Regions from separate parts of the Homo sapiens genome. Here regions 1 and 2 are each linked to region 3. Evidence: fine-mapped expression QTL. A gene starts in region 3. Each other region holds a variant in brackets. All regions are shown on one strand. Distances are between the middles of the regions. Region 1 overlaps MIER1 (MIER1 transcriptional regulator). Region 2 overlaps SLC35D1 (solute carrier family 35 member D1). Region 3 holds the start of MIER1 (MIER1 transcriptional regulator).

Evidence for each region. PIP is the estimated chance that this variant, and not a neighbour inherited with it, causes the effect. A credible set is the group of variants that fine-mapping cannot tell apart.
Region 1: its variant is the best candidate, but not a certain one, in a credible set for the expression of MIER1 in whole blood (INTERVAL, PIP 0.65).
Region 2: its variant is the best candidate, but not a certain one, in a credible set for the expression of MIER1 in fibroblasts (GTEx, PIP 0.72).

What each region holds. Positions count from the first base shown.
Region 1 is chr1:66,973,865-66,982,051 of GRCh38, reverse strand. MIER1 (MIER1 transcriptional regulator) reads right to left here. Exons shown (of 14, transcript NM_001077700.3): 12 at 5,330-5,457; 13 at 134-273. It also overlaps a transcript of SLC35D1 not described here. Among named protein-coding and RNA genes, the nearest start is that of MIER1, 53 kb to the right of the region's middle. The variant C/A (reference allele first, on the strand shown) is at 3,245.
Region 2 is chr1:67,023,288-67,031,475 of GRCh38, reverse strand. All of the region lies in intron 8 of SLC35D1 (solute carrier family 35 member D1), which reads left to right. Among named protein-coding and RNA genes, the nearest start is that of SLC35D1, 27 kb to the left of the region's middle. The variant C/T (reference allele first, on the strand shown) is at 4,722.
Region 3 is chr1:66,920,180-66,928,349 of GRCh38, reverse strand. MIER1 (MIER1 transcriptional regulator) reads right to left here and starts at 3,360. Exons shown (of 14, transcript NM_001077700.3): 1 at 3,255-3,360; 2 at 2,108-2,208. The coding sequence starts at 3,321. DNAI4 (dynein axonemal intermediate chain 4) reads left to right here and starts at 3,494. Exons shown (of 17, transcript NM_024763.5): 1 at 3,494-3,688. The coding sequence starts at 3,519. RefSeq lists enhancers at 3,062-3,341, 3,632-3,791 and a silencer at 3,372-3,491.

The DNA of each region.
Region 1 (8,187 bases), 54 kb before region 3:
GTTTGTCTCATGTGTTATCATTTTTTACTTTCTGCTCTGGAAGTTTAATAGAAACCCAAACGGAATTTCCCAAGTCACTGCAAGAAAGTGTCCCTTATTATGAAGAAAGAGAAATGTTTCTCTGGTTGCTTACCATTTTGATTAGCAGTGCTTACAGTGCCATCTTCTTTCTCAGACTGGCTGTTACTACTGTTTGATGCAGTTGGGGGAGGGGATGGTGCTCGACTAGATGCAGCACTTTCACTTTCGTCTAGAAGACGATCCATGTAATCCCTTAAAATTAATAAAACAATTTTTATATTAAAAAGAGCTGAAAATTAAAAATTAGTTGAGGTTAAATTCAGAAGGCTTTCTTAACAAATATATCCTAATATTCACTTAACATTCATTCCAGTGCTTCATCTATCATACCAGGATCTGAATATTTAAATGAAAAGCTCCTTTTGGTTACATGTTTATAGGAAAAATGCATAACGGCTTTAAAGTAACAAATTTTAGAGACCCATAGGAAATTTTAAAGCTTGTAAAGTTGTAGGCAGGTGCTCAGAGTGGCCCAACTAGAACTGGAAGATCTCTTAACTGAAGTGATAGGGGTGATGTCTAGTAAAAGTACAAAAGAATTTCTGTACAAACATAGATTGAATTTTAAAGCTCCTAAAGGCGATACCTAAAAGACAAATTTGAGCCTAACAAAAAGGACTGATTACCTCCTAAAACCTTCCTGGATATTTTTGGTATTATATTTCTGCCAGATCTGAGCTATAAGATGCTAACTAAATTCCTGGGATTATCTGCTGGTTTTATCCTGTCACTTTCTCATTGTATGTGAGCTCATTTCTTCTCTAAATCATTCCTGAACTACGTAACTGTGGTTAAGTGACATTGGTGAGCAGATCTGGGATAGAGATTTGTCTCTCTCAGGTTTAGTGTATCACCTACAAAATGTAGATAAATCATATGTCTAACACACATGGTTATTGTATTATATATGTACATAAAAATGTTTCATAATCCAAAAAGTGCTACTAAACCACTAGAATAAAAGTCAGCCAACTATAGCCTGTGGGCTGGCCATCTGTTTTTTGTAAATAAAGTATTATTGGAACCCAGCCACACACCTTTGTTTACATAGTGTCTATGACTGCTTTCCTGCAACAACTGCACAACTGAGTAGTGTGATTAAGTCCTTTCTTACTACAGAGCATAAAATATTTATTCTCTACCTGTTACAGAAAAAGTTTGCTGATACTAGATACTGCACTAGAATTCCCCAAGGTCAGGAATTTTTAGTCTACTTTGTTTATACCTGCACCACTGGTACCTAAGTTGTGCAAGGCACAGAACAGAAAGAAACTCAATAAAATTCTAATTGTGTTATTTATCTTAAAATTCCTTCAGCATAAGTATGATAGAAATATTAAGACAAATCTCTTAGAATTTTGTGAGCAGGGTAAATAAGAAGGAAACAGTGGAAGCTCTGAGGAATTTTCTGAAAGTCTGTGTTAATAGTCTATAATATGCTATTAATTGTAGTTATCTCAACCTATATGGTCATCACTGTCTCCTAGGTTATAGGGATTTAACAAATATAGGGATGTGATACCTGACTTCAAGAAACTTCTAATAGTCTGAGGTATAAAACTAATACATATCTCAGAAATGTATATGACCATGACCTATGCAATTTACATTCTATGCCTTATTTTCCTCATCTATAAATGAAGGGAATTCAATTAGATGGTCTTGAATACCTATAAATCTATATAGAATTAAATTAGATGGTCTTGAAGACTTCTTCAGCTTTATGCTACTCATCATAATTATAGAAAAATTACATAACAAATTTGAAGCACACAGAAATAAGTGTGGTGAGTCCCAAAGGGACTTCAGGTGCTAAGGCTAACAGAAGACACATGATGAGGAATTGTTGGAAATAAATACGTTATAGTGGGAATGGATAATATGAAGGAAGTTAAAAGCCAAAGCAAGGCCGGGTGTGGTGGCTCACGCCTGTCATCCCAGCACTTTGGGAGGCCGAGGCAGGTGGATCACCTGAGGTTGGGAGTTTGAGACCAGCCTGACCAACATGGAGAAACCCTGTCTCTACTAAAAATACAAAATTAGCCGGGTGTGGTGGCGCATGCCTGTAATCCCAGCTACTCGGGAGGCGGCGGCAGTAGAATCACTTCAACCCGGGCGGTGGAGGTTGCAGTGAGCCGAGATTGCGCCACTGTACTCCAGCAGCCTGGGCAACAGGTTGAGACTCCGTCTTTAAAAAAAAAAAAAAAGCCAAGGCAAAGGAAACAAGAGTTGATATCAAAATTATTTTTAATTTCTGGATATAGTCATAATTCTGTGAAAGGATAGTAATTATTATTATCATTGTTTCCTAAAGATTAATAGCATCCAGAATATTCAGGAAAGGGCAGAATCAGACAAACCATCCAGAAAGTTGAAGCAGCATTCAGGTAATCAAAGTTATGCTGAGTTAATGTTTAGTTTTTGGAAAAATTATTTGGAAAGCTGAGTATTCTACAATGAAATCTCCAATAAGGTTCCCAATTCTTCCAGGTAGTAAATAGGGACAATGTGTAGCAGAATCTTTCAAAGGCTGTTTGTAGGCAGAAAAGGGGAAAATGTGTTTCATCCTGGTGAACAAATGACTTTCAGGATAATGTGCTCTGAATTATGGATTTTGACCTAAAAAGAAGGATGAGAAAATTCACTCAAATTTCTCTCTAAACACATTAGCTTAATGTTTTATGAAGTCACTTAAAGTGCAGCTATTAACAGAAAGAGATGGTAATGGAAGCAAACCAGAAAAATTTATCCCCATCTGGAAAGAAATGTAGTTTGGTCACTGCTTCTTACAGAAGACATAACACAGCTAAAAGGGAAGAGTCTCAGTAAAAAAGTATGATTCTTTCAGTTAAATAAACTTTATAAAAAAAAAACAACCCAGTGGGGCTACAACTGAAGCCTACAAAACCATGGTATTCCTGCCTAAGGGAAAAAACACATTAGTTCACGTCATACCATTATACCAGGTGACCACTATTAAGATATTGTTTATTTTTAACTGTGGCCACTCTACCTAAAGAATATTTAACCTTAAGAGTCATTAAAGTTACAGATAAAAGTATCTTCAAAAAGTTTTCAGAAGCTATGGGGAGATCAATAGAGAAATTAGAACATTTGGTGGCACATCCCTACCTAACCTGTTGATCTTGACATCACAGAGGAC[C/A]AACTAAGCCAGCCCACACTTTGGTGATGCTTTCTGAAAGAGAAAACTGGATGAACCATGGGTCTGACCCAGCATGGCCATTCTTATGTTGTTACTGCTGATGATTACAGACTGAATGTAGCTCACGTGTGAACATTATTTCTGAAATGGTTGAAAAAAATAAAAGATGTTACTATTGCTTTTCCCTATATAATACCTTGAAAATCATGACTATTTTAAGATATATCTGCAGACTAGATGCTGTATCTAATTCTATATTATTATGCTTGAATACTACCAATGGAAAAAAAATTAACTATAAATTTAACATTAAGCAATTAGATAAAATTTGCAATACTGCTATTTATGAAATTCCACTTTAGCAATCACCAGCTTTGAATAATGGGGGATGATGTACACACTCCATTGTCCCATGATTTCCAAGGGTGAATCATACCCATTTATTCTCTTTCAGATTGTTTTACTGTGGGCTTTAGAGCATTTGACCTTCTAAGGAAGTGACCAGCAGAGATACCTACCTATAAATGAACTTGATCAAGAAACAGTGCAGTTTAGGAGTCTGAAGAGCAAGATCAAATAAACATACAAGCACATCTTTTTTTTTTTTTTTTGGAGATGGAGTTTCGCTCTGTTGCCCAGGCTGGAGTGCAGTGGTTTGATCTCGGCTCACTGCAACCTCCGCCTCCTGGGTTCAAGCAATTCTTCTGCCTCAGTCTCCCGAGTAGCTGAGACTATAGGCGTGCACCACCACATCAGCTAATTTTTGTATTTTTAGTAGATATGGGGTTTCACCATGTTTGTCAGGCTGGTCTCAAACTCCTGACCTTGTGATCCACCCGCCTCAGCCTCCCAAAGTGCTGGGATTACAGGAGTGAGCCACCGCACCTGGCCCAAGCACATCTTTCGAAGGTAATTATTTGGTCAGCTTTAAGAACATCTTTACTGGAGTACATTGACAAAGTCAATTTTTTTTTATTTTTATTTTTTATTTTGCATTATTTTTTTATTCTGTAAACATTAGGGAATAATTAAGGATAGCACTGTAAAGTTAATTCCATCATAACAATTAATCACCATTTTAAAGCAATTCATGAAAGACAAGGGGTTCAATACTCTTTTCTGTTTAAGTAACAAATTGCCAGTGGTAGTGGAATGTTTCACTCCAAAGCTAGACTGAATGAGGTGTAGACAATAAATTCTCTTAACATGGGAATAAATTAGGCATATCAGACATTTTACATAAAGAATGGATACAACAACCCATATCTGTGTCAATGGGACTACACTAGAGTTACATTACTAATTCTTAAATATTACTTGTTAGAGGAAAGATTCAGGAAAGCTAGGAAAAGGAAAGTCACCATATACATGTTTTTTTTCCTCTATAAAAAAACTGTATGCTGGGTACAGTGGCTCACTCCTGTAATCCCAGCACTTTAGGAGGCTGAGGCAGGTGGATCATTTGAGGTCAGGAGTTCAAGACCAGCCTGGTCAACACAGTGAAACCCCGTCTCTAATAAAAATTCAAAAATTAGCCAGGCGTCATGGCAGGCACCTGTAATCCCAGCTACTCGGGAGGCTGAGGCAGGACAATCGCTTGAAGCCGGGAGACGGAGGCTGCAGGGAGCTGAGATTGCACCACTGCATTCCAGCCTGGGCAACAGATTTGAGACTACATCTCAAAAAAAAAAAAAGAAGATTAAAACTGTATGTGCTTATACTGAATGGAACTGAATTTAAGAAAAACATGCTTTCACAGCTGTTCTGATCCATTTCTTCTCAACAGTGTATTAAAAATATACATTCTAAATCTTGCTTTAATGATATGCTTGTCTCATACATAATATGAACTGTAGTTTACAATATTTCATAAGACACTGAAAAGTCTAAATGCCTTATTTATGAAGATATAATAGATGGTAAAGTTTAATGTGTATTATAAAAGCAAGATTTTATCACTCTCGGCCTTCTGGTTAAGATCAAGTATATAAAAGCAAGATTATCAAAATAATAATTAACTCAAGAAAAATCTAGAAAAGCTTAGCAAAAATGTATATATAGCTCTTAAGGAAAAAATTAACTCACGTTACACCAGGATGAAGATTATATTTCTTCTTTCCAAATCGTGTTTGCTGAGCAAAGAAATCATAACGTTCAGATTTTTTCCACATGTAATAGAATGCTACACATTCACCAACTGACCTTGTTCGGACCTGTAAGAAACAAATGCTTGCTTTTAAGAATCTCCTTTTTAACAAAGTTACTTCATGATAAACATCTGAAGTTTGAAAATAAATTTGGCTAGTCCTTAACTGAAATATAATCCTATATATAACATACAACAGTGTAGCAGCTATGTTGAAAGCTATTCTTTCTAAACATCTATTAAGAGAAATAATATATTGGCAACAGGTCTTCAGATATACAGCACTGTGCTTTTTAAAATGCTACCATCATCCTAATTTACTAGAAAAATATATTCCTGTATTAAAAATGCTTGGAAGTTGGCCGGGCACGGTGGCTCACGCCTGTAATCCCAGCACTTTGGGAGGCCAAGGGGGGTGGATCACGAGGTCAGGAGTTCAAGACCAGCCTGGCCAAGATGGTGAAACCCCATCTCTACTAAAAATACAAAAATTAGCCGGGCATGGTGGCAGGTGCCTGTAATCCCAGCTACTCGGGAGGCTGAGGCAGGAGAATCACTTGAACCCCAGCAGGGGGTGGGGGTGGGGGCAGAGGCTGCATTAAGCTGAGATCACACCACTGCACTCCCACCTGGGTGACAGAATGAGACTCAGTCTCACACACACACACACAAAAAAAAGGCCTGGAAGTGGCATTCATGTTAAAATAAATGTTATAAACAGTTTGCTAATACTTTTACTCACAGAGTACGGGTACCTAGGGAGCGTATCTTTAAATTCCCTTTTGAAAGATTCTCTTACTAGTCCCAACAGCAACCCAGACTCAGTTAATTTACTCTCTAGAAAGTCTGGGAAGATGCCACAGTGAGTTAAAAGTATCATAATAATGCTAATGCTTTGTTTACTAAGTTACTCTTGCGGCTTACTGTGCTGTACCTATTTGTGCAACTGAATGGCTCCCCTCACATAATGTTAAATGCCTACGGAATTAAATGATGCTGACAGAATTCCTTTTTGTTACTTAGCCGGGAGAACTGGTGGTAGGGTTGATGTATATATATAAAATACTGAGGATTTAGGGCTGATGTATATAAATAAAATACTGATAACTTTTTTCCTTTCTTTTTCTTTTTTTTTTGAGATAGTGTCATGCTCTGTTGCCCAGGCTGGAGTACAGTGGCACCAAACCGCTAACTGCAGCCTTGCCCTCCCAGGCTCAAGCAATCCTCCTGCCTCAGCACCCTCAATAACTGGGACCACAATTGCATGCCACCAAACTCAGGTAATTTTTCTATTTTTTGTAGAGATGGGGTTTTGCCATGTTGCCTAGGCTGTTCTTGAACTCCCAGGCTCAAGCAATCTGCATGCTTCAACCTCCCAAAGTACTGAGATAACAGGCATGAGCCACTGCACCGGCAATACTGACCATTTAAAAGGAAATCCAGTGTCTGTATGTGTTCTGGATGCAATATACTTCTTTATCCCATAAATTTCTGCTCTTGAAGTAAATATTCTGTAGCACTGATTGCACCTAAAGGACAAATGTTGATGATACCCTCCCTTACCCAACATATATTTTGCTTTCTTCCCGTTTGCACTGTACAGCTCTGATCCATATTGCTCTGAGACTGACAGCAATCAGGACTTTAAAAAAAATCATCCTCTCAAGCTGTTTTTTGTCTCCTCTAGGATCTTATTTCTAGATAGATTCGAACTAAGTCAACTGTACTTTACTGAAAGCAAAAAGATAAAGTCATTTTGGGGCATGCAAAGTTAAGATTATGAAAAATCTTCAACAAAAGCCCTCAAAATAGAACTTATGATTAAGATCTGAACTTTAATTCCAGACATAAAAACAAACTCGATATTCTCACTAGAGTACTCGTCTCCCTTTTAAAGAATTACTGTCCTCTTTTTGTGCACTAGAGTAATTTAGTGTATTATGTAGAGGTCAGCTGACTTCTACCTTGTAACATTTAAATGCCACTGTCCCAAATATTTATGAGAAATCAAGGTTATACTTTTAATACTTATGTTACTTGGCTCTAAGTTTCAAGTCACCTATAATTTCTTAACTCCTTTAAAAAAATCATATTGGTCAGGGTTGTTGCTGCTGCTTGTTACATAAGCTATCATTCCAGGGGTCCCTTCCTTAGGTAATTCAGCATGGTTTGGTTAAGAGTGTTTTAATTCAAGCAGAAGTGTTAAAAAACAACAACAACAACAACAAAAAAAAAACCTCATCCAAAAATGTTGTCCCTTTCAACCATGAAACAACGAACTTTTTTCTTTTTTAATCAAAAACATACACGGCCAGTCACATAATGCACTCCTTTTCTTGAATGTTAACTATATTTGAGGTTATCAGATGATATGAACACAACATTAGGGGTATACATTTTTGAAACTAATTACATTGTCTTCTAAGTTATCCTAAATGCTAAAACTAAACATTTCTCTATTAGTGTTATCTGCGGTAAACTGCCAACATTCAACAAAATAATTAAGAATGAACTAATTGGGAGTGGGGCTCTTCACTGCCCAGTTCCCACTTAAAAAAAAAATAATAAAAATAAGAATAAACTAGTTAATGCACGACAAAATTTAAGAAATGAACCCACAGGATTTGTAAATATTTTATTAATAACAAAAAATATTAAATATGTGTCAAAAAAATCAACTGGATACAATCCAATCACATCCAAATGTATAAAAAGAGAGCTGTGGCAGAAGACTATTCAGAGCCTCAGACATAAGCCCAGGTACTTTCAACAAGGTCCTGGACAAGCTACGACACAA
Region 2 (8,188 bases), 100 kb before region 3:
TTACTGAATGTTTCTGAGCCTGGTACATAATAGGCACTTAATAAGCAGTAGTTTTTATTTTTTTTTAATGCTGTCTTTATGGCAGGGAGAATGGGCTCCTTTGCACTGTAGGGACTGCCAGGGTTCTGTTTTTCCTACAGCTGTACTTTCAAATGGCTGCTGCTGCTTTTGTTGCAGCCAAAGATCTATTCCTGTGGCGAAGCAGAGGAATGCAACAGCGTGCTTGTGCCATAGACTGACTTTCTCCAGAGACAGGCCAAATACTTAGAGAAATAAAAAAAAAGTCCCATGAGAATTATTTTTCTGTTTTTGATTTTTATCTGAATGGAACCATATCCATGAGATTTATTTTAATGTCCTGCAGATATCATTATTATGTCCCCAAAGGAGACTGTGCAGTATATATTTGGGGCATTTTTCTGAATCAAATGTAACATTCAGTGTAGACAGCCTTGGGGCTTAGCATATGTAGACTCATGTTTACCGTATATAACCTGTGTGACCTAAAGTAAGTTACCCGTCTTCTGGGTATAAGAAGATCTGGCCTTTCTGTCCCACAGGTTGTCATGGCAATCAAATGACATGATACATGCAGAAGCACTTGGTAAACCATAAGGCACTCCAAAAATGTATGGCAGCACTTTTTTAATCATTTGCTGCTTGATTATCAGGAAGCCTGATTAAACCATCTTTAGCATTGTGCCTCAAATCCTGCCTGGGGCCTGGCACATGGGACTTAATAGATGTCAGAATTGTACACCGAAAGCAGAGGAGATATTTAGAGCTAGAGGAGAGAAGAAACTTAGGTTTATGAGAGGTTTATTTGAGGTCTTTGCCAAATAATTCTGATTACTGAACCACTGATTAGGTCACTGATAAAAAAAAAAATTAAAAGTAATGATTATATATAGTAGCTGACATCATTTATTGAGCCAGATTCCCTCCATGTCAGTGATTGTATCCATATATATATTTTTTGTAATTCTGATAACAACCCTGTAGATGAGGCCTTATTATTCCTCTTTTTACATATGTAGAAACTAAGGTTCAGAGAATTATCATTGTCCCTTACAACAACTTATTCTGTATTCTTAATGACTTTGGGATAAAAGAATAGCTTAGCCAGGAAAGGAAGATAATTTAGAGCTGGAGGAAAGGTTTTAGGGCTGAGATTTCTTTTATGTGTTTTAGCTTGGGTAAAATAAACTCTCTACTTTTCAAGCTGATCTAATACTCCTGTCACAACTGGAAGAAGCCTTAATACCCATGCAGTTCTCCTTTACAGAAGCTCAGTCTAGCATAATGAAGCAGTGGTGAGGTGGTACAAGACACCAGGCTTCTGAATCCTGGTCCACCTACTTTTCTAGGTACAATGGCTTTTCTTGCAGGGTATGCGTAACCTTTCCATTGCCTAATTGATGGCTTACTGGGTTATGCCTTGTCTGTTCAAAGAAAAAAAAAAAAAACTTAGTGCAAAGCTAATGAGTTACATGCAGTTCAAATGACCTTTAATTATTAGAAGAAAAGTTAAAATTATATATTTTGTTAACTATACCTTAATAAAGCTTGGGGCGTGGGGCGCAGGAAACAGGGCAAACTGATAGTGTAAGAAACAGTTAAAATGTGAACAATTAAAATGTAAACATACTTGAGATTCTGGTCCAGTTTCAGATAAATGTGAAATAAAACTTTTTTTAAAAACAAATTATGTAGATTTAACATTCAACTTAAATACAGTTAGTAGCATGTACAAGCAGGTGTGTGGGTGTATTAAAAAGCAAAGTTCAGAGGGGGTCAGGGATTAAAACAAAAGCAAAGTTCACCTCATCTGTGTGTAGAAAATGATGCTGGGCCACAGATCATGGATGTTTAATCTACTGCCACTAGTATTTGTGCTTAGCACTTCTAAGTGCATGGAACTCTGCAGAAATGACATGTGACACATTTCCTGCTCCCAAGGAACTTACAGTCTTGCTAGCAGAAGCTGGTCTCCTGAGTCGTAGGCCAGTTTATTGTGCGTTACTGATTTTTCATCAGAGAGGAGGTTGTGTTTACAGGTATGAAGGAGCGTAGCATGAGATTGTATGCATGAGTTCTCATGTCTTCCATTCATCCAGTAAACAGTTATTAAACACCTACTATTTTCTGATCACTTTGTTAAATACCATGGATACAGAGATAAATCATCAAGGTATTTGCAATGTCTGTCTGGAGAGATAGTCATGTACATAAAGATGTCCATATATGTACACATACTTAGTAAGGAACCTGATAAAAGTAGCATTTAGTCTTCTCTTGAGTTTGGCAGGAAAGATACTAATGTGCAACTTAGGTTTTTGTGAAAGCTTCCTAGTGGAAGCATCATTTGGTACAGGTTTATAATTCAAATCAGGAACTGAATGTGGTCTTTCATTTCCTAGCCATGATGGAATAACACGGACAGGGTTTACCTTCCTACATTAAGGTACTAGAAAATCAAACATTTATCAAACAACATTTTTCAGTCTTTGGATGACAGGCTGTGAAGGATTGTTAAGAAAGGATGAGAAGAGAAAAGAAAGCTATAACAAAAGACTCAATTGGAACTTTTAGGGATGAAAAATATCTGAATTGAAAAATAAAGTGGAAGGAATGAAACAGCAGATTAGGAGAAAAGATCAGTGAATTAAAGACAGTAATGGAAACTGTCCAAGATGAAGCGTATAGAGGAAAAAAGATTGTAAAGCAAATGAACACAATATTAGTGACCTGTGGGGCAATATCAAGAAGTCTATGAAGGGTGGGAGTAGAAATTTTTTTTCTGCAAATTTGATGAAAACTTTAAAGGCACACACACAAGGAGCTCAGTAAACACAGAATGTAAAGGAAACTGTACCATAAAGAGGAACATTTCATAATGATAAAATGGGTTAATTCCTCAAAAGGATATAATGGTCCTAAGTGTATATATTCTTGATGAGAGAGCTCCAAAATATATGAAGTAAAAACTGATAGAACAGAAAGGAGAAATAGACCAACCCACAATTACAATTGGGATCTTAATATTTTTAACTCAGTAATTGATAAAACAGTGAAACTGGAAGTCAGTAAAGTATAGAAGACTTGGATAATACTGTCAACAAGCTTGATCTACTTGACATTAAAGAACAATCCACTCAACAACAGCAGCGTACACATTCTTTTCAAGTGCACATTGGGTATATACCAAGATAAACTATATTCTGGGCCATAAAATGAGTCTTAATAGTTTAAAAGAATTGAAACCATACAAAGTATATTCCCTGACCAGAACAATATTAAGGTAGAAATTAATGGCATAAAGATATTTGGAAAATCCCCAAATATTTGCAAATTAGCACACCTCTAAATAATTCATAGACAAAGAAAAATCACAAAGAAAATCAGAAAATATTTTGAACAATGAAAATCAAAGCACAACATAGTGGCTGGGTGTGGTGGCTCACTCCTGCAATCCCAGCATTTTGAGAGGCTGAGATAGGTGGATCACTTGAGGTCAGGAGTTTGAGACCAACCTGGTCAACATGGCAAAACCTCGTGTCTACTAAAAATACAAAAATTAGCCAGGCATGGTGGCTCACACCTGTAATCCTAGCTACGTGGGATACTGAAGCACGAGAATCACTTGAATCCAGGAGGCAGAGATTGCAGTGAGCCAAGATAGCACCTCTGCACTCCAGCCTCGGCAACAGACCCTGGTTGTTTTTGTGTCTGTCTCAAAAAACAAAAAAACTACAACATAGGAAAATTTCTGGAATGCAGCCAAAACAGTATATAGAGGGAAACCCATAAAATTAATTATATAAATTAAATCCCTAAATGCTTATTTTAGAAAAGAAGAAAGATCTAAAATGAGTGATCTAAGCCTCTGTCTTAAGAAAGTAGCTGGGATGAGGTGGCTCATGCCTGTAATTCCAATGCTTTGGGAGCCTGAGGTAGGAAGATTACTTGAGGTCAGGAGTTCACGGCCAGCCTGGGCAATATAGTGAGACCTGTCTTTTAAGAAGGAAGAATAAAAAAAGGAAACTAGAAAATTAAATCCAAAATAAACATAAGAAATGTAAGATTGTAAGATAAGAATAGAAATCAATGCAATGAAAACCAATGAAACTAAAAGCTAAGATTTTTTTTAAAAAAGATTAATAAAATTGCTAATTCATAGCCAATTAATCAGGCCAAAAAGTGAGTTTACATAAATTATCAATATCAGAAATTAAAGAAGGACCTCATTACAGAGCAGGTATATTTTAAAAGAATAGTAAGAGAATATTATGAACAATATTATGCCAATAAACTTGACAACTGAGACAAAATAGATTCTTGGAAAAGACAAACTATGTACCAAAGCTCACTCAAGAAGAAATAGGTAATGTATGAATAACTCTACTCTGTTAAGTAATTGATATGGTTTTGCTGTGTCCCCACCCAAATCTCATCTTGAATTGTAGTTCCCATATTCCCCATGTGTCGTGGGAGGGACCAGGTGGAGATAATTGAATCATGGGGGGCAGTTTCCTCATCTTGTTCTTGTGATAGTGAGTTCTTACGAGATCTGATGATTTTATAAGGGTCTTCCCCCTTTGCTGGGCACTCATTCTTGCCACCCTGTGAAGAGGTGCCTTCTGCCATGATTGTAAGTTTCCTGAGGCCTCCCCAGCCATGCGGAGCTGTGAGTCAATTAAACCTCTTTCTTTTATAAATTA[C/T]CCAGTCTCAGGTATTCCTTTATAGCAGCATGAGAAGAGACTAATACAGTAATTAAATAGGTCTGTTTAATTGAAATTAATCATAAGCCTTAATTAATAATAGGGCTATTATAGCCCTATTTATGTTAAAGAAATTGAATTTGTAGTTAAAAACTTTCCTCAAAATAAAATTTCAGGCCCTGATTGCTTCACTGGAGAATTTGACAAAAAATTTAAGGAAGAAATAATAATTCTACATAAATTCTTCCAGAAAATAGAAGATAGAACACTTCCTTGTTGATTTTATATGGCTAGGATTACCTTCTGCCAAAATCTGACAAAAACATTACAAGGGGGGAGAAAGTACAGTACAAAAAAATCCAGCAATATATTAAAAGGGCAGTATATCATGACCATATTGTGTTTATCTCAGGAATTAAGGTTAATTTAACATTTGAAAATCGATCAGTGCAGTTTACCATATTAACAAGAATATAGTAGAACTATCCTAAATAGATGCAGAAAACCTATTTGACAAAAGGTGACACCCACTCATGAGTGTAAAATTCTCAATAAACTAGGAATAGAAGGGAACTTTCTCAGCATAAGAAAGGACATCTACCAAAGAATCTATTGCTGACATATTTAATGGTGAAAGAAAGACTGAATACTTTTTCACTAAGATTTGAGAACAAGGCGAGGATGTCTGTACTCATATAGTGTTCTATTCAGTGTTATGTTGAAGAACTCCATCTGTATAATATAGATTTGAAAGGAAGAAGCAAAACTGTGTGTATTAAAAACATGATGATATATGTAGAAAATCTTAAAGAATCTAGAAAAAAGTGATTGGAACTAATTAGCAAGTTTGTACAGTACAAGGTCAATATGCAAAAATTAACTGTAGCTCCACAAAACAGCAGTGAACACTTGGAAGCTAAGTAAAAAATACCACTTATAATAGCTTCAGATTATAAAGTACTTGGGGGATAAATTTAACAAAATATGTTACCTGTATGCTGAAAACTACAAAACACTAGTGAGATAAATTTTAAAAGACCTAAATAAGTGATTTTTATGTTTATTAATTAGATGGTTTGATATAATTTGTCAGTTCTTAGCAAATTCATCTATAGATTCAACACCACCCCAACTCTATGGGAAGATTTTTGTAGATATTGACAAGCAGATTTTTAAATTTATGTGGAATTGCAAAGGACTTAGTATAGTCAAATCAGTTTTCAAAAATAACAGCTTTAGAGGATTTACCCTACTTGATTTCAACACTTCTTATAAAGCTTCAGTAATCAAGACACTGTGATATTGGATTAAGAGTAGACAGACCAGTGAAACAGAACAGAGAATCTAGAAATAGAAATATACCATGTGGGCAATCATTTTTGTCAAAGGTGTGAAAATAGATCAATGAGGAAAAGATAATGTCTTCAGCAAATGTTGGTAGAACAATTTGACATCTGTATGCAAAATAGTGAACCTTGACTGTGACCTTGTGGAATATACAAACATTAATCAGGAAAGTGTTATAGGTTAAATTGTGTCCCTCCCCTTCCAGATTCATATATTGAAGTCCTAATCCTTAGTACCTCACAATAAATCTTATTTTGAAATGTGATGATTGAGGTGTAATTAGTTAGGATCAGGTCATACGGGAGTAGGGTGGGTCACTAATTCAATATGACTGGTGTTCTTACTAAGAAGGGAAATCAAGGGCCAGCAGGGTGGCTCACACCTATAATCCTAGTGCTTTGGGAGGCCGTGGTGGAAGGATCACTTGAGGCCAGAAGTTTGAGACCAACCTGGGCAACAAAGCAAGACCCTGTCTCTACAAAAGAACTTAAAAAATATTAGCCAGATATGGTGGTGCACACCTATAGTCTTAGCTGTTCAGGAGGCTGAGGTGGAAGGATTATTTAAGTTTCGGAGTTCAAGGATGCTGTGACCCATGATCACGCCACTGTACTCCAGACTGGTTGACAAAGCAAGACCTTGCTTAAAAAAAAGGTTGGGGGGCGGGGTGGGAAATTAGGACACAGGTATGCACACAGGGAGAACACCATGTGAACATGAAGTTAGACATCAGGGTGATACCTCTACAAGCTAAAAAAATACCAAAGATTGCCAACAAACCACTAGAAGCTAGGGGAGAGGCAAGAAAAAGATTGTGTCTCAGTTCTTAGAAGGAGCCAATCCTGTAGACACTTTCATCTTGGAGTTCTACCCTCCAGAACTGTGAGACAACAAATTTCTGCCATTTAAGCTACTCAGTTTTGTGGTGCTTTGTTATGGCAGCTCTAGCAAACTAATGTTAAAAGGTTCATAGACCTAACTGTAAAAGCTAAAACCATAAAACTAGAAGAAAAGATAGGAGAAGATCTTTGACTTTTGGTTACACCCAGGTTTCATTAAAAAGTTATAAGCAAGAATTATAAAAGACAATATTGATGTTAGACTACATCAACATTAACATTTTTTGCTCTTCAAAAGACACTATTAAGAAAATGCAAGGTGAGGCTGGGCATGGTGGCTCACGACTGTAATCCCAGCACTTTGGGAGGCTGAGGCGGGCGGATCACTTGAGGTCTGGAGTTCAGGACCAGCCTGGCCAACATGGCGAAACCCCATCTCTACTAAAAAATACAAAAATTAGCTGGGTGTGGTGGCATGCACCTGTAATCCCAGCTAGTTGGAAGGCTGAGGCAGGAGAATCACTTGAACCCAGGAGACGGAGGTTGCAGTGAGCCGAGTTCGTGCCACTGCACTCCAGCCTGGGCGACATAGTGAGACTCTGTCTTAAAAAAAAAAAAAAGAAAATGGAAGGTGAGTCACAGACTGGGAAAAAATATTTGTATTTTATGTATGTGTGTGTATAGCATATGTGTGATTAAGGACTTTTATCTAGAATATATTTTTAAAAACTCGTGCAGCTCAGTAATAAGACAAATAATGTGAATAAAAATTTGGCAAAAGAGGCCGGGCACCTCTTTTGTACCTCTGTAATCCCAGCACTTTGGGAAGCTAGGGCGGGCGGATCACTTGAAGTCAGGAGTTCGTGACCAGCCTGGCTAACATGGTGAAACCCTGTCTCTACTAAAAATACAAAAATTAGCCGGGTGTGGTGGCATGTGCCTGTAATCCCAGCTACCCGGGAGGCGGAGGAAGGAGAATCGCTTGAACCCAGGAGGCAGAGGTTGTAGTGAGCTGAGATCACACCACTACACTCCAGCCTGCGCGACAGGGTGAGACTCTGTCTCAAAAAAAAAAAAAAAAATGGCAAAAGATTTAGACAGACACTTCACCAAAGAAGAAATGCTAATGTCAAAGATTAAAAGATACTCAATATTGATAGTCTTTAGGGAAATGCAAATTAAAATGAGAAAATATCACTTAACCACTTATTAGAATGGCCTGTAACAGTTCCAAGTGTTGGTGAGAATATAGATCAGTGGGAGCTCTTATATAGTGCTGGT
Region 3 (8,170 bases):
ATCCCAACTATGATAAAGAGCAGGGGATCATAGTCTATTAACCTACTGAATGAATCCTAAACTTGTCAGGAAAATGGAAGTCTGAAACATTTCTGAATGGGTATCTATCTTACTGTTAAATAACTCTTTAAGTTTATTAATATTGTGTATCAATATTACTAGTTTTAAATGGTATTATTATTATTGAGGGAAAAAAACTCTCTACATTTTTCCCCTTCCCCTTTTTATAAATGTGGATTCAGTGGGTTTTTTAGGTTCAGATATTATAAAAAAGAAACAGCTCTAATACTGCAATTCATAGGTAACACATTACCACTGAATTCAGTATCCTTCCACTATTATTTTATTTTAGTGATACACCTAACTGTAAAATTTTCAGGAGCCACCTTACGGAATGAAAAGTCTTTCTCAAAACGCTTACTTACCCTCTTCAGTATTAAATATATAAAAATTAACTATTCACTAGTTATAGAATTTTAGTGTTGGATGGGACCTTAGAGATCTTTTAGTCAATTCTCTACCCTGTCAAGATAGTAATCTCTCATCATGCTTCTACTACCAGGCTTTCTGCCTATGTTTAAACCCCTCCAGTGACTCACTATATCTCATAAAAAGGCTGCTCTTTTCAAAAAAAGTTCAAATGTTTAAAACATTCTTTCTTTTATTATGCCAGAATCTACCTCCTTGTTGTTTCCATCCATTACCCTTAGTTCTTCAGCACTTTGGATTAATTCAACAGATATCTTCTTTGTATCCAAATGCAAACAGTTAATATTTATACTTGGGTTAACAAAAAAAAATTTATTTTTAAAGCCTATTCATACTAGAAGAGTTGAAAATAGGACATGAGAGAGCTAAAGGCATAAGAAAATGCACCATTAATTGTGTCTGCTTAAAATTATTACACTTTGTTATTTATTAATGTGATATCCAAAACAGTAGTTCTGTTGGAATTGTGTATAAAATTTTTAAACTAAAAAAGTGTGCTGAATTCCAATTTTATGTGAGGTTTGTGATTAATGTCCCAAAACAAAAAACCACTATACAAAGCCTGAATAAATGCCTCTTCAGCTCCTATTCCCCACCTAAAAGCCTCCTTATTTTCAGGCAAAGTAACATTAATTTTTATGACATTAAGCTACTCAAAACTGCTATTATATTGATAAATCATTTGTAAGCAATTTACTGAATCTTCCATTCAAAAGTTATTGAACAATTCTATAGAGGCTATAAGGCGCACGCACACACAAACCCCTCAGTTATTATTATGCTTTTAACAAAAGCATTTAGGAGCACAATCTTACTTCAACCAGTACCTTAAACGAACCAATGAACAAACTTCTTTGGCAATTTACATATACCTAAGAAATATAACCTTTTATTCAGTACCAACACCTGATTCAAATACAAGTAACATATATATATATACTATATAAACCTATCTGTTATGCAATCCAAAAAGGTACCTCTCAAAATGCACCAAGAAAATACTGTACTTATAACAATTTAGACTCTGGGGTTAGCTGACTGAAATAGATTAATACAACACATCCAAAACTAAAAAATTCTATATCTAACAATTTTCAGCGTCCATGAGTCTCTTTTGAGATTAGTTTATAAACTATTTCCTGAAATTTTTATTTAAAAGCAACAGCCTACACCATGTCTTTATGATGTGGTGGTAAAATTTTATGGATAATTACTAATTTGGTTGAAAATACCTACATCTAAAAAACTTAGCCTATTACATTTGGAAGCCCCACATCTATAGTGACAATCAGCATCATCTTTCGTTAGTTTCATTTTTTGTTATTAATGCCACTCTAAAACACTTATATAGGCTTTTGGTTCTTCAAATAACAGTTTTGGATTTTCTTTTCATAATTTTTACAGTTTTATCCAGTGGCCCCATTTTATCAGAATATTACAAACTATGATTATGGTTTTTACATTGATGACATGTTATTTTTATCTCACCCAAATTCTGGAAATTTTTGGCCCATCAGTTCTCAAACACTGGAACATATAAGAAGAGTAATATAATCTTATATTACTTGAGGGAGTTTGGATTTTCCCTCCCTTAATCTCCAAGTGTACCCCTGCCTACCAGCATCACATCCGTCTTGTCTGCATTGAACCTCAACCAGTTGGTTCTTAACCACGTCCGAAACTCAGCCAGGCACTGGGAGAATCGAGCGACCACACCATCTGGATCAAAGGAAAGAGAGCCTCAGTAGCAAGGAGACAGAAACGATGATACAAGCTCACCATCCACCCTGTTTCGCATTTTTAAAAAGATGGTCGGGAATCAGGACAAGGATCCCATGACAATTTTAGAAAAACATTTAATGAGCCTTAAGTCATGCAATTTGTAACTAATGATAAAGGAATAAAAGCGACCCAATAAATAGGTCGCCTCATTCCACCCATAAGTGAAGAAGGTTCAGTCAACTCCGGGTCATCTTGGTGAAGCGGCCTCAATAGCCAAGTCAATCTTGTAATTACATAAGTTCTTCTGCAGAAATGCAGAATTCTAGCGTTGGAGGAAGCTTTAAATAGGGAAAACTGAAGCCCAGAGAGGGATAGTGACTCGCTCAAGGTTACACAGCATGCAGGGACCACAGATAGGCTCCAGGCCAGGGACCTAGCCACTACAAGCTGAAAGAACAAGAGTAAAGAGCGGCGGGCATCTGTCCCAAGGGATCCTCCCACGCGCTAGGAGGACCTCGTTTCCTTACAGTAATACCCTATTCGAGTCTCTCCTCCCTCCCTGACTCCATCCGAAAAGGGCAAGTTGGCCCAGGGCGCTGCTCACCATAAAGGCTGCAGTGCAAGCGAGAGCCTCCCGGGGATGGGACACAAGTGAGGGAAATACAGGAGAAAGAGGCGGAGCCACAGCAGGGTGGTCAGCTTAGCCCCACCCCGACTGGGATCAGGGACCGAAGCGAACGGGGCGAGGCGAACTCACTCCGCAGCGGATTCCCAGCGCGGCGCCACCACCGCGAAGGCAAAAAGGCGGCGCTGGGAGGCAGTCGATGGCCAGAGGGAGGAAGCTGCGCATGCGCCTTTGGCAGCCGGCGGAGAGCAAGCCAGGCGCGTTCTGCGGCAGCCCCTCCCCGGAAGTTAAGGGTCTTCCGGGCGGTACACTGCCGTGGGGGAGGGGAAGGAGAGAAAGGGGACTGAGGACACCTCAGGAGCCCCTCATCCCAAACTGGAATAGAAGGGGAGAGATGGCTTGTGGAGGCTGCACTTACAGCCGCTGCCGCTGCTGCCGCCGCCACCTTCGCTGCTGCCGCCACCGCCTGAAGAAGCCCCATCCATCCGCCTGCAGCCGGGAGACTCAGAGCCTGGGAGGGGCCTGAGGCCCGGGCCGCCCGCCTCCTTCTTCCAGTCGTCGTCCGGAGCTTCCTCCAGCTCCACCAACCCTCTGCCCTCCCCTCCGCCTCCGCCCTCCTCCTCGGCCTCGTGCCGCCAGCCAACCGCGCGGCCGCTTGTTGAGCCAGGGCTCCACCGTCGCCATGACGCCCGGCAAACATTCCGGAGCCTCGGCCCGAGCCGCTAACGGAGGAGCTTGGGGGTACAGGGACTTCAGAGGCGGCCAAAAAAAGGGGTGGTGCACCACTCCCCAGCTGGTCGCCACCATGCCAGTCTCTCCGGCAGGCAGTCACAAGCAGCAGAACTTCGGGTTGTAAGTTCCGGCGCTAAAAACCGTAGTCCATCCCCCTGGGACCCGGAGGGAGCCCTTCTATTAATAGATACCATTTCTGGATTTGGAAAGGGGCCCTACCCTAACTGGGTTCAGTCTGTAGACCTTGAAGCTCCTAGGCCACAATGTCTCCTTTATCGACCTACCGCAGTCTTTAAAAGAATCTCTACTGGGCTGGGCGCGGTGGCTCACACCTGTAATCCCGGCACTTTGGGAGGCCGAGTGGGGTGGATCACCTGAGGTCAGAAGTTAGCGTCCAGGCTGGCCAACATGGTGAAACCCCGTCTGTACTAAAAATACAAAAAGTTAGCCGGACGTGGTGGCACATGCCTGTAATCCCAGCTACTTGGGAGGCTGAGGCAGGAGAATCCCTTGAACCCGGAAGGCGGAGGTTGCAGTAAGCCGAGATCGTGCCGTTGCACTCGAGCCTGAGCAACAGAGCGAGACTCTGTCTAAAAAATAAGATAAAATAAATCTCTATTGCTGTGCTTGCTGTGTGAGAAAAGACCTGGTTTAGAACCATCGTTCTAGCACTTCTAGTTTGTTAAGGCCTGCAGTCTCTCAAGCTTGATGCTTTCATGCTGTGCCCAGACGTTCAAGAGCCTCAGCTTCTGTGAGCCACCAGGCCGAACATTGCTGTGCTCTGTAGTAGAGGTATTTTATTGTCGTCTCGTCAATACCATCTTACTTTAAAACTAATTCCTGCTTCCAACATTCTGTTGTTATGCAGCAGTTGAACAAGACTGTAGAAAAGCACACAGCTGTGTGGACTTGTCTTACTTTAAATGGTTCCTTAGCGCTGCCCGTAATGCTGCCCACTAAGTTCCCCCAAAATTCCCTAAGTAATTTGTTTTCTCTTCCCCTCTCCAATCTCCTCCACCTCAGCTAATCTTTCTTCAGCGGAACTTGTTGAGAGTTCTTGGGAGAGAACCTTGCATTCTCTCTTGAATATGGTACTCACGCTTTTGTCCATCCTACCACTCCATCAAAACAGCTTCTATGAAAGCCAGCAATAGCCATGCAACCAAATACAATGGCTGATCCACAGTTTCATTCTTTTTGAATGAAGCAGTGTCGGTCGGGTTTATCGCTTCTCGATCTTTGAAAAGCTTTATTTGGGTTCTGAGAAACCACTCTTCCTAGTTCTTGTCTTGGTTCATGGTTTCACCTTTCCCAGATCCTTTGCTGGTATCTGTTCCTCACTACCATAACTAAATACAGTCATGCATCGATGGTGATACCTTCTGAGAAATACCTTGTTAGCCAATTTCAGCATTTTGCAAATATCTTCTAGTGTACTTACACAAACGTAGATGTATGGGCTACTATACACCTAGGCTACAATTGTATAGTAGACTGTACACCTAAGCTATAGTAGGCTATACATCTAGGTTTGTGTAAGTACACTAAATGGTGTTTGCATAATGATGAAAATGCATTTGTTGCTTCTAGGCTACCAACCTGCATAGCATGTTACTGTACTGAATACTGTAGGCAATTGTAACACAATGCTAAGTATTTGTGTATGTAAACATAGAAAAGGTAATGTCTTGTGCTTGAATGTTGTGACAACTACAACGTTGTTAGACAATAGGAATTTTTCAGCTCTGCTACCAGATCACCATTGTATATGTGATTCATTGTTGATGATCCAGGACTGTATTGGTATTGCTGGGTTAGTCCATAAACCTCTTCACTCTGATGTCTTTAATATCACCTATAATGATGATTCACAAATGTTAATCTCTGGCTAAGACCTCTCCCAAGAAAACAGATTTTAAGAAAAAACACCTGCACTTATAAGTTAATAAACATCTCAAACCAAATATATAATATTTTCTGTCTTTTCTAATTAACTGCAATCTTTCTCATTTTAGTAAATGGCAAATTCCACTCTTTCACTTACTCAGGGGAAAAACCTTGGGATTACCCTTGACTTCTATCTTATACCTCACTCTATAAGCAAATTTTACCATTTCTACCTGCCAAATAAATCCAGACTACCACTCCCATGTAAATCACTGTGTTACATTGTGATACCCACCTAAATAGTCTCCTTGCCAACACCCTCCAGGTAGTAATCAATGTGGTTCTGCTCAAAACATTTCTCAAGTTTTTTCCATTTCACTCAGTAAAACTCTTTACAGGGCCCCACAGGATCTCACTATAGACTCTTCCTCTTGCCTAATTACATCCCACGTTGTCCCACAACACATCAGACACACTATATTCCCCCTTTGGAGCCTGTGCATATGCAGTTTTTTGGAATATTGTGCCCCCAGATAACCTCATGACTCACCTCCTTTAGGTAACTGTGTCAAAGAGTCCTTTACCACCCCATATAAAGTAATAATACTTCACCTTTGGAGCTCTTCAGTCCCTCACCTTTGCTTGAATTTTTCCATAAAATTTATTCCTGCCAGGCACAGTGGCTCATGCCTGTAATTCCACCACTTTATGAGGCTGAAGTGGGCAAATTGCTTGAGCTTGGGAGTTCACAACCAGTGGGCAAATTACTTGAGCTTGGGAGTCCACAACCAGCCTGGGCAACATGGCAAACCCCCATTTCTACAAAACATTGAGCCAGGCGTGGTGGCATGTGCCTGTAGTCCTAGCTACTTTGGAGGCTGAGGTGGGAAGATTACTTGAGACCGGGAAGGTGATGTTGTAGTGATCCGTGATCACTGCCATTGTACTCCAGCCTGGTCGACAGAGTGAGATTCCACCTCAAAAAAAAAAAAAAAAAAATTTCTACAAGTTTATTGTGTACCTGCTTATTCATCCATCTTCACCTAAGGATAGTACTCCAAAAAGGCAGAGATTTTTGTTTTGTTCACTACTGTATCCATTGCCTAGATTGAAGAAGGTGCTGAATAAATATTTGCTGAATGAATGAGTGTTTACTTCAGTAACATTGGTTACTGCTTATCTTGTATGGTTTTTGTTTTCACCTTAAGGTATAGAAATTTTAATGTAAAATTAAATTGAGTTTATTAAATTGAAAAATACAAAAACTGTCCAACTCTCATAGTATGATGTCTAAGAAAAATTCCTTTGGGAGTTTCTTAAATGTTGACAATTTCATAACATCTATTAAGGAAAGAATGGGGTGGGAGACGGGAAGTAGTATAACCTTCACTTTTTGCAGTAGCCATGTTACCTAATTAAAACGAAGTTTCACAGACAAGTTTACAACCTTTTGGTTTGGCCTAATTTGTTATTTCTCATCTTCCTTCTTTTAGGACTTAATCCTGACCTTGGAAAGGATCTCATGAAGCAAATATTTGTCAGTTTTCCACTTTCTCTTTTCCTGTGTTAGATTCTTGCCTTTAGCTTTACAATACTGGACAAGTCTCCCATTGCAATAAAAATAACTGCTGATTGTTCACCTCTTCATCCTATTTCTCTGTCCAGTGCCTTTATATTCCTTACATGTTCTTGTTTCCTTTTGATTCTTATTTAATGTTTTTATCTCTGCTTACATTACTCACCTGTTCTTGAATGTTATCCATTTTTTCCATTAGAACCCTTAGCATATTAATCACAATTATTTTAAATTCATAGTCTTACAGTTACAAAATATCTGTCATATCCAAGTGTGGTTCTGATACTTGCTTTGTCTCTTCACACTGTTTTTGTACCTTTTGATATGCCTTACAATTTTTTGTTGAAAGCTGAACATATTGTATAGATAATATGAACTGAGATTAAATAGGCTGATAGTGTGTTTTATGTTTGTGTGGCTAGGAATTAGGCTGTGTTTACTGTTTAGTTGTAAATGTGTAAGGCATCAGTTTCCTCTACTGTCCTTGTTTCTGTCTTTTACAGTTTCCCTAGGGACTCCTTAAATAGATTCAGCCTTGCAGTTCTTTCCATTGTAATCTAATTATTATACAGGAGCCCTGTAGATATGGTGGTGAAGCAGGATAGTGACTCCTTCACAGGTGGGAACTGGAGTGTGCAGGCGCTGGCAGGGGTGAACTCCACTCACTCGCTGCTCCACCCCTTGAGGGAGGTGGAGCACAGGTGAGTGGGTGCAGGAGCCAGGGTGAGTGCTTTTGGGCACCTTCAAGAGCAAACTACATACTCACTCCCCAACAGTATCTAGGGGAGGGTATCCACGATGCCCAAAACCCCAGAGGAGGTGTTATAGTGCCCTTTTAGCTTTGCCATCTACAGACAGCGTAAGTGTTAACAGCTCAGTGGAGGGTCAGCATGACAGCCTTTTGCACCCACACTCGTGGCACCTGAGTTCTTGTCCAGTGTCCAGGAGGAATGAGGTCGCATGAGAGTTGAAGCTGGTAAATGCAGGGGATTTTATTGTGTGAAAGTGGTTCTCAGTGGGAAGAGGAGCTGAAAAGGGGACAGAACGGGAAGGTAATCTTCCCCTGAAGTTCAGCCGTCCCCAGCCAGATTCCTCTTCAAAGCTACACCATCAAGCTGTCCCTCTGAAGTCAAGCCACT